2 separate regions of the Homo sapiens genome follow, and region 2 is linked to region 1. The links come from fine-mapping of genetic effects on gene expression. A gene starts in region 1. The other region holds a variant in brackets. All regions are shown on one strand. Distances are between the middles of the regions.

The links.
Region 2: its variant is fine-mapped to the expression of CAPN1-AS1 in whole blood (INTERVAL, PIP above 0.99).

The regions. Positions count from the first base shown.
Region 1 is chr11:65,178,612-65,183,982 of GRCh38, reverse strand. CAPN1-AS1 (CAPN1 antisense RNA 1) reads left to right here and starts at 2,149. Exons shown (of 2, transcript NR_145677.1): 1 at 2,149-2,758; 2 at 2,911-4,112. It overlaps CAPN1 (calpain 1), which reads right to left and starts at 2,055. Exons shown (of 22, transcript NM_005186.4): 1 at 1,970-2,055; 2 at 1,015-1,282; 3 at 786-855; 4 at 391-509. The coding sequence starts at 1,281. RefSeq lists enhancers at 1-789, 790-1,578, 1,579-2,368 and silencers at 1,391-1,685, 2,287-2,736.
Region 2 is chr11:65,143,229-65,148,599 of GRCh38, reverse strand. It overlaps the pseudogene HIGD1AP10 and the pseudogene RNU2-23P. Among named protein-coding and RNA genes, the nearest start is that of SYVN1, 11 kb to the right of the region's middle. The variant C/T (reference allele first, on the strand shown) is at 2,061.

The DNA.
Region 1 (5,371 bases):
GGAGTTGGGGGATAGGAGGCTTGACACGTGGAGAAGGCCACACGTGCTGATCTGTTTTCCCCAGCGAACACTCCTTTCTCAGATGGGGCAACTGAGACCGACCTCCGGGAGGAGTGGAATTTGTCCCACAGGATATAACACAAAAGTCTTTCTGTTCTTTCAAGCACTTTCCACCTGATACATACAACCACCTAGGAAAACTGCCAGCCGAAATACCTGCCCAGCCCAGTCACTTCACACATGACAGACCCGAGATGGCACTGAGAGGTCAAATACCTGCTAGAGGGAGGGCTGGCCCCACAGGGTGTGGCCCTAACTGCAGGTATTGTGGGTCATCCTTCCGCATCTCCCCCAGTGCCTGCTGCCCCTCCTCCCCAGGGGAGCCCTCACCTGGAAATGGAAGATGCCGGCATAGCCATTCTGGAAGCTCTGGCCGTGCGGAACCACTCGGTGCAGGAGGGTGTCGTTGAGAGTGAGGGAGGCGATGGCCGCCAAGAGCCAGCAGTCCCCTGGGGCAGGAGGGATGCACATTAGCCTGCTCTACCAACCTGCCCCGGGGGGGGAAGCGGGTGCTAGGGAGAATCTGGGGTTCCTTGGCCAGGGTGCCACTTAACTCCCCTCAGCTTGCAGAAAAGACCCAGGAATCTGGGCAAACCAGCCCCAGCGCTGATAGCCAGATCCTGCCTGGGCTTGCAAGAGGGAGGGGTTGGGGCAGAGCCTGAAGGAGCGGGAATGGGGAACTACTGTGGAAAAAATACCCGGGACCCGACGCCCTGGGGGCCTACCCAGTGCTCCCTGGCAGATGTCTGTGCGGGTAGCTCCATCCACAATGAACTGGGGGTTTGACAGCAGTTCCTACGAGAGACCCAGAGTCCTGTTCCTCGGCCAGCCCCTCCCAGAAATTGGCACCAGGCCACCCCAGACCCCATTCCCCACCAGGGACATGGAGTCCCATCCCTACTCCTCATCCAGGATCTGGCTTAGCCGAGTCCCACCCAGGATGGCCCCTCTCACCGTGGGACGCTTCCACTTGATGCCATAGGTCTTGGAGGAATTGGGACCCAGGTCCTTGTAACCCAGGCTCTGGGGTACCGGGGGGAAGGCCTCATCACGGAAGAGGGTCCCACTCTGCAGGCATCGCACCCGCAGCTGCTCATAATCCTGGCCCAGGTACTTGATGGCATTCTCATGGCGGCCCAGGCCCAGCTCCCTGGCCCGCTGCTTCTGCACTTGGGCTGACACCCCAGTGCAGTACACCGGCGTGATGATCTCCTCCGACATCCTGCCGGACAGATGGGCCTGCTCAGAACCCAGGCCTTCCCAAGACTAGAACCTGGGCTCCTGCCTGCAAGCTCTGCTCTCCTGCCCCTGCTTATCCATCCCCAAACCTAGGGTTTCCCTGCCTCACTGCTCCCCTCACAGAAGTAGGGTTCTCAGCCACCTCCCGGTGCTCCCAGTGAATCCAGGAAAGGGATTTCCCAGTTCCCAGGCGTGCCGGCCACCTCTCCTTTCCCGGATCCCATTGTCAGGGGCTTGCAGCTCTGTAGTGAGCCAGCAGGTCAGGTGGGGCAGGGCGGAGCCTCCAGACAGCACAAGGAACTGGGCAGGTGGGACACAGCAGGGAAGGCCTCTTTGATCCTGTTCACAGGCCTGCAACCCCCTCCCCAAACTAACCAAGCTCCTGGTGCACCGGCCCCTTGCCGTGGGCTGAAAACCCCAGACGGTCGGGGTCCCCCTCCTCAGGCCCCCGCAGCAGGCTCGATATCAGAGCTGGTGGGCCCTAGCCCAGCCCCTGGGGACAGCGGTGAGCCAGGCTGGGACAGGCGCCTGGGCTGTGCCGCTCCGCCAGCCCCCACCCCTGCTCCAGGAACGCAGAGGCCCCCGAGAAGGGACCGTGCTGGGGCAGCCCCTCAGCCCAGGAGCAGTGGCCAGGGTCAAGGAATCCCGGCTCGGCTACCCAGCTTCTTACCTGGGGGAGGGGTGTTTGGGGGTCGCTGCAGTCCCTGAGGCTGGCTTCCCGGTGGCAGCTCAGGGCAGGGCCCAACCAGGAAGAGCGCTCCTCCCCGCCCTCCTCCCGCCGCCCCTCCGCCCTCCGCCCTCCCTCTCTCCTTCTCCTCCTCCTCCTCCTGGGGCTCCTACCCCGCTTCCTCTCGGCTCTCCCTTATCTCTCCGGCACGGTCTCTGACTATCTCTTACTCACGGTGTCTCCCCGCCCCTCCCTCCGCAGGCCGGGGGCCAATTCCGCGAGAGGACAAATTAGTAAAAGGCAGAGCAGTCCCCGGGGAGGGGCCAGCGCGGGGGGGGATGGGGGGGCTGGGGCGCGGCGGAAGGGCACCGCGGGGAACGGAGGGGGAGGGCCGGGCAGGGGGTATTTTTAACCAGGGGCAGCAGCTCGAGTTGCAGGGCCGGACGGCCGCACCCCACGCGCGCCCTGGCGGGCATTCCGGGGCGATTGTGCGGCGGCGCCGCCTCCCGCAGCCCCGGGCCCGCCCGGTCCCCAGCTCCCCTCGCTCCGCGCGACCGCAGCTGCTCCCGCCGTTCCCAGCCAGCCCCGGCGCGGGGCCGAGATTACCTCGGGCTGCGGCAGCTGCTCTGAGGAGGGGCCGGGCTGGCAGCGAGCAGACCCCTGCCGGACACTCAGCAAACGGCAGCCTCACCCCGCAGGGCCGCGCCACTCCCCTTCCCCACCCCACCGCCGCGTCCCGGCTCAGCGCTCCCCGGGGAACGCAGGGGGACCGGGCTCGCTGCGTGACCTTGGGTAAGTCCCTGCCCCGTTCGGCCCGACTTTCCGCATGCGTGCATCCTATGGGATGGGGTTGGGCAATTGTGGGAGCCCATCTTTCTCTAACGTTCTGGGGTTTCTTGAACCTGGAAACTTAGAGAGGTGGACATCCCTGTTCTCTCCCCCAGGCTCTCAGCCCACCCACCTGGAAGCGCCCATGTGTCACCTTACCCAGGAGAGGGCGGCAGAGGCTGCGAGCAGGACGGCAGCCCCCTCTCCCCACCCCCAGGACCCTGAGATCCTGCTTCACGGGCTGCAAGAAGTTGGGGGGCCAGGATTCGGCGCGGAGGCCGGGGGTGTGGGTGGGGAGACTGCAGAGACTCCCGAGACCCCCCCAAGTCAGGGCTTTTCGCTGGTCTCGCAGCCCCAGCCCAGCAGCTGCTGCAGTCTTGCATGTTGTGGATGCAAGCATTTTGCTGAGGAAACTGCATAGCGTTCCCAGGACTCTAGGGCCCACGACCCCTCAAAAGTTAAGAGCCGCTGATCTAATCTAACCCCACTTTCACCCTCAGTTAACAAAAGAGGAAAACTGAGGCCTGAGAGGGTGTGACTTGCCTGAAATACCTAACCTGGTGAGTGATGGGTGGAACCAGCTCCTAGGCTTTCTGCGCAGGTGTCCAGGGACAGAGAAGGGTGGTTTAAACTAGAGAGGTGGCAGGCAGAAGTAGATGGATTTGATAACTATTTAGGATACACCATCAAAATTTAACTCAAACTGGATTACACACCTAAATATAAATGGCCAAACCATAAAACTTTTTTTTTTAAAAATGGAGACAATCTTAACAATATTGGGTTTGAAAAGATTTCTTTTTTCTTTTCTAAAGGCAGGGTCTTGCTTTCATTGACCAGGCAGGAGTGCAGTGCCCTGATCACAGCTCACTGTAACTTTAAACTCCTGGGCTCAAGAGATCCTCTCACCTCAGCCTCCTGAGTAGCTGAGACTACAGGCACGTGCCACGACACACAGCTAATTTTTAAATTTTTTGTAGAAATGGGGTCCTGCTGTGTTACTCAGGCTGGTCATGAACTCCTGGGCTCAAGCAGTCCTCCTGCCTGAGCCTCCCAAAGTGCTGGGATTACAGGTGTGAGCTTTGGCACCTGGCCAGATTTCTTAAATATGACACAAAAAGTGTAAATGATAGAAGAAATCAATAAATTGAACTTCATCAAAATAAAACGCTTTTGTTTCTCAAAATGCACGAAACTATTAAAAATGAAAAGATAAGCCATAGACTAGGACGAATATTTGTAAAAATTCTATCTGATGTAGGACTTGTATAAAGAACTTTTACAATTGAATAAAAATCCAATAAAAATGGACAAAACATTTGTTTGTTTTCTGGTGTTTGTTTTTGTTTTTGAGATGGAGTCCCGCTCCATCACCCAGGTTGGAATGCAGTGGCGCGATCCTGGCTCACTGCAACCTCCACCTCCTGGGTTCAAGCAATTCTCCTGCCTCAGCCTCCCCAGTAGCTGGGATTACAGGCGCCCGCCACCACACCAGGCTAATTTTTGTATTTTTAGTAGAGACAGGGTTTCACCATGTTAGCCAAGCTGGTCTCAAACTCCTGACCTCAAGTGATCTGCACGCCTCTGCCTCCCAAGGTGCTGGGATTACAGGGTGAGCCACCGCGCCTGTCAAAAAATGGACAAAACATTTGAACAGACACTTCATCCAAAAAGATCTCTGGATGGCAAATAGGCACATTAAAAAACACTGAGTGCATTACTCTTAGGGAAATGCAAATTAAAGCCACTAGAAGGACTGCTTCTAAAAGAACACCTACTAGAATGGCTAAAAGTTAAGATCAACCATACCAAGTGTTGTTATGTTGTCAAGGATATAGAAGAACTGGAGCTGTCATACACCAAGAGAGGGTAAAATGATCACCACCACTTTGGAAGACAGTTTGGCAATTTCTTTAAAATTTAGCGATACAAAGAAATCAGCCATCAAGCTACAAAAAGACATAGCATAACCTTAAACGCATATTGCTAAGTAAAAGAGGCTGGTATTAAAAAGCTGCATACTGTATGATTCCAATAACTCTATATGACGTTCTAGAAAAGGCAAAACTAGCAATGGTAAAAAGATCAGCAGTTGCCAGGGATTCAGAGGGGTAGGAGAGGGATGGAGCACAGGGCATTTTTAGCACAGCGAAACTATTCTGTATGATACTGTAATGACGGATGCATGACATGCATTTATCCAAACCTGCAGAATGTACAACACTAAGAGTGAACCTTAATGTAAACTATGGACTTGAATTAATAATATTGTGTCAATATTGGTTCATCAGTGATTACAAATATACCACAGGCTGAGCGCAGTGGCTCACCCCTGTAATCCCAGCACTTTAGGAGGCTGAGGTGGGCGGATCACATAAGGTCAGGAGTTCGAGAGACGAGCCTGGCCAATATGGCGAAACCCTGTCTCTACTAAAAAATACAAAAATTAGCTGGACGTGGTGGTGGGCTCCTGTAGTCCCCACTACTAGGGAGGCTGAGGTAGGAGAATCACTTGAACCCAGGAGATGGAGGTTGCAGTGAGCCAAGATCACACCATTGCACTCCAGCCTGGGCGAC
Region 2 (5,371 bases), 35 kb after region 1:
TCTAGACCTGTCAGGCTTAACACAATTCACTTATCCAACCATTCAATCATCCATCATCCACTTAGCCAATCCAGTCTTTTTTTTTTTTTTTTTTTTTTTTTTTTTTTTTTTTTTTTTTTTTTTTTGAGACAGAGTCTAACTCTGTCAGCCAGGCTGGAGTGCAGTGGCGCTATCTTGGCTCACTGCAACCTCGACTTCCTGGGTTCAAGTGATTCTTCTGCCTCAGCCTCCTGAGTAGCTGGGATTACAGGCACGCATCACCATACCTGGCTAATTTTTATATTTCTAGTAGATATGGGGTTTCATCCTGTTGGCCAGGCTGGTCTTGAACTCCTGACCTCACTCAGATGATCCACCTGCCTCGGCCTCCCAAAGTGCTGGGATTACAGGCGTGAGCCACCACGCTCAGCCCAATCATTTGTTGACTCACTTCTTCAACACTCCCTGAGTTCTTATTCTGTGGCAGGCCCTGGGTCTGGGGCCAAGAACAGGGAGTCAAATTAGATTAGGGCTGTGAAACAAGCCACTCTCAAACCTAGAGGCTTATGACAATACCAATCATTTATTTTCTTACCATTATGCAATTTGGGCAAGGCCTGGTTGAGACAGCTCTTCTTGTGCCTCCAGCTCCATCCTTGGAGCTGGAGGACCCTTCAAAGATGGTGCACTCCAATGGCTGGCAAGTTGATGCTGGCTAGAGCTATTTATTTATTTATTTATTTATTTATTTATTTATTTATTTAAATTCCCCCAGCCAATTGGATGGTAGGGCTAGAGCTTTTTATTCCCTATTTTTTTCATTTTTAAACTTTATCTCCCTTTAGGGGTACACTGTTCCTGGAGGTACTGCAATGCTAGGTAAATGTGTGGAGTGGGTGGGGCAAGCTCCTATTCCATCTCTTAGTTCCAAAAATCTATTTAATATAGATTGTGTCCTCGAATAGAGGACATATCAGATATTAAACTGATAAGAACAGATACTACACTTGATCTTACCCAAAAGGCTGAGAATGGAGCTTTGATTCTCCTCTACATGGGCCTCCCCACAGGACTGCTTGGGCTTCCTCACAGCATGGTGGCTGAATTCCAAGAGAAGAAAACAGAAGCTGCCAGTTCTGTTTTAAAGGGTAAGCCCAGAATTGGGCACAGCTTCATTTCCACCATATTCTACTGGTTCAAAGCAAGTCATAGGCCAAGTCCAGAATTAAGGGGGTGGAGAAGTAAACCCCACCTTTCCATGAGGGACGGGATAAGGAATTTATGAGCATTTATAATCCACAAACCTAACTAGGAGTGCAGTTTCATGCTGCTTGGATTGAGGAATTGACTGGTTGGATAACTGACTGGGTTTGATTAACACAAACTAAGGATTATTTCTCATTATATCTGTTTCCACATGGTGGACCTTTTCTGGAGTAACTAACACTGCAGAAAAGTGGCCTTGTCCCACTTTCTCTCACTCACCCCTCCCAAGAAGTAGAAAAGAGAGTTTTCTTGGTGAAGTTGTTAGAAGCAACTATGTATGGGACCCAAAGTGAGGTAGGAGGCAGGTCTCAATTCTGGAGGTGGGGCTGGGACACCAGACCAAATTGAGGACTTGCTAAAACAGGGATGGGGTGGAGGCAGCTTTCCATAAGACACACCCACCAGTGTGCCATGTCAGTTTACCATTGCCATGGTAACACCTGGAAGTTACTGCCTCTTTCTGTGTTAATGACCAAACGACTCAGAAGTTACCACCTTATTTTTAGAAATTTCTGCATAATCTTCTCCTTAATTTGCATATAATTAAAAGTGGGTATAAATATGACTGCAGAACTACCTCTGAGCTGCTACTCGGGGTAGCCCTGGTGTGCAAGGAACAGTACATCTGCTGCTGCTGTGCACTGCCACTTCACTAAAAGTGTCTGTCTAACAGCACTGGCTCACCCTGGAATTATTTCCTGGACAAAGCCAAGAACCCTCCCGGGCTAAGCCCCAATTTGGGGGCTTGCCTACCCTACATCAAAAGAAGGAGAAACCTTTGGGAGCAGAGTGGGTAAGTCTGTGCAGCTCTGGGA[C/T]GGGTACAGGGACTTCAAATGCATTTTCTCAACAACTCTATTGGTTACAGAAGTAACATTTTTATCTCTATCCTATGTGTCTGTTTTTCAGATGGTACTAAACTTGGTCAGGGAAAGACAGGGTGTTACATTGTATGCCCTGTAAAAACCCTTGCTCTAAATCTGTCACATACTTGGCACTCAAGAAAAACATGTTAAATGTTAACTAAAAGAATGTTGACATCAGGTGTGAGAGGTTTTCTTCTTCTTCCTTTTTTTTTTTTTGAGATGGAGTCTCGCTCTGTCGCCCAGGCTGGAGTGCAATGGTGCAATCTCGGCTCACTGCAACCTCCACATCCTGGGTTCAAGCTATTCTCCTGCTTCAGCCTGCCAAGTAGCTGGGACTACAGGCCGGCACCACCATGCCCAGCTAATTTTTGTATTTTTAGTGGAGACGGGGTTTCACCATGTTGGCCAGGGTGGTCTCGATCTCCTGACCTCGTGATCCGCCCGCTTCAGCCTCCCAAAGTGCTGGGATTACAGGAATGAGCCACCGCGCCCAGCCGGGAGATTCTTCAAGCAGTCATTATATCAACAGACACAGATGTTTCCCTTTCTTCATATGACGAAGCTCAGGGATCCAAACTTATTCGTAAAGCTAAAGAGACACCATTGGTACCCGTTGGAATAGCAGGTTTTGCAGCACTTGTTACATATGGATTATACAAATTGAAGAGCAGGGGAAATACGCAAATGTCCCTTCATCTGATCCACATGCGTGTGGCAGCCCAAGGCTTTGTTGTAGGAGCAATGACTATTGGTATGGGCTATTCCATGTATCGAGAATTCTGGGCAAAACCTAAGCCCTAGAAGAAGAGATGCTGTCTTGGTCTTGTTGGAGGAGCTTGCTTTAGTTAGACATCTCATTATTGAAGTTATGTGTTATTGTGGAAAATAAACTATTTGAGTGGGTTTAGATGGTAACACAGCATTTTGAATATTGGCTTCCTTTCTTGCAGGCTTGATTTGCCTGGTGACTTAATTACTAGTGACTAGTTTACTAACTAGGTCATTCAAGGAAATCAAGTTAGCATAAAAGAAACATGTCACCTAAATGCACTAGATGGTGTTGAAATGTCCACCTTCTTCAATTGTGAAGATGAACTTAAGTTCTAAAGGATATAACAAGCCAACCCTGAAGTACTCCCAGTTTGCTGCAGGATCTCACATGTTTCGGATGTTATATAAGAGTCCTATTTGCCCTAGTTAATTTAACTTTTTTTCTGCCTGTCTTGTGGACTGGCTGGCTCTTTCAGAACTCTGTCTAAAAAGTGCATGGAATAAAACTTGTAAAGCTTCCCACAACTGACAGTATCTATGTGTGTGTGTTTAAACCAAATCTAGAAAGCTTACATTATAGCTGCATAGTAGTGGTATTTATTAAAGAATCACAGTTGTGAACATGAGAATAACTTATGGATTCTAGTTTAGTTATTTTGTAATTGCAGAATTATATTTTTGCTGCTGTTATATCTGAATAATTTTTAAATGTCATCTTGAGATAGAAATATGTATTTAAGCACTCATGCAAAGGTAAATGAGCACCTTTTATTTTATTTTTTTTGAGACGGAGTCACGCTCTGTCACCAGGCTGGAGTGCAGTGGTGTGATCTCAGCTCACTGCAACCTCCATCTCCCGGGTTCAAGCACTTCTCCTGTCTCAGCCTCCTGAGTAGCTGGGACTACAGGTGCACACCACCATCCTTGGCTAATTTTTATATTTTTAATAAAGACAGGGTTTCGCCATGTTGTCCAGGATGGTCTCGATCTTGACCTCGTGATCCGCTGGGCCTCAGCCACTCAAAGTGCTGGGATTACGGGCATGAGCTACCGTGCCCAGCCCAATGAGCACTTTTTAAATGTGTGCATTGCTTATTTTTTCCATAAGAATTACAAACATTAAACTAATCAAATTACCTATAATGGAATTGATTAATGACTTATGAGCAAGCTGGTTTGGCCAGACAGTATACCCAAACTTTTATAAACTATAGAATGTTATTACATTTGTGAAATTTTCTTGTCTAACCTGAATTTACATTTCATGGTGATAACATGGTATATGTACTGTTGTTAAAGTAAGTGACCATCTCAAAAAAAAAAAAAAAAAAGAACGTCAACATCAATTCTGACAGGACAGGAATTTGGACAATGTAGCTTTTACTCATTCATTCTTCCACTAATGCATTCATTCAGCAGACAGTCAAATAACCTGCAATTAGCTTGTGGATCTCTCTACCATGAGACTGAAAGCTCCATGAGGTCAGGGAATGTATTTTGTTCTCCACAATGTCCTCAGAACCTGGCCTGGGGCCTGAACACAGTAGGCCCTCAGTAAATGTTTGTTAATTAAAGGAATGAGATCAGAGGCAAGGGAAGTCCAAAGGCAGTCTAGATAGACCAACAAACTGACCTCATGTGTGGTCAGTCCCACATTCAATGCACACTTCTTGGTGAGGGGGTCATTCAGGGAAAGTTGGAGGGTCTGGCCTTCCAGGCTGGGAGTACCTGGAGTGTTCCACCATGGAAGAGAGAGAATAGTTCCTCATTTTCTCTTTCATGGAGGGAGAATGTGAGAATCCAGATGTTGTTGTCAAAAATGTTGAAAAACTTTTAAGCCGAACGCAGCAGCTCATGACTGTAATCTCAACACTTTGCAAGGCCAAGGCAGGTGGATCGCGTGAGCCAAGGAGTTTGAGACCAGCCAGGGTAACATGGCAAAACCCCATATCTACAAAAAATACAAAAATTAGCCAGGCACAGTGGCGCATGCCTGTAGTCCCAGCTACTCTGCAGGGCTGAGGTGGGAAGATCACTTGAACCCAGGAGTTTGAGGCTGCAGCGAGCCCTGATCATGCCACTGCATTCCAGCAGCTTGGGTGATAGAGCAAGACACTGTCTCAAAAAAAAAAAAAAAAAAAAGCCTGGGCATGGTGGCTCACACCTGTAATCCCAGCACTTTGGGAGGCCGAGGCGGGTGGATCACGAGGTCAAGAGATGGAGACCATCCTGGCCAACATGGTGACCATCCTGGCCAACATGGTGAAACCCTGTCTCTACTAAAAATACAAAAAATTAGCTGTGTGTGGTGGCAGGCGCCTGTAGTCCCAGCTACTTGGGAGGCTGAGGCAGGAGAATCGCTTGAACCCAGGAGGTGGAGGTTACAGTGAGCCGAGGTCACGCCACTGTACTCCAGCCTGGGCGGCAGAGCAAGACTCCATCTCAAAAATAAAATAAAATTTTAAAATACTTATCAATTCATGTTTTCTGTT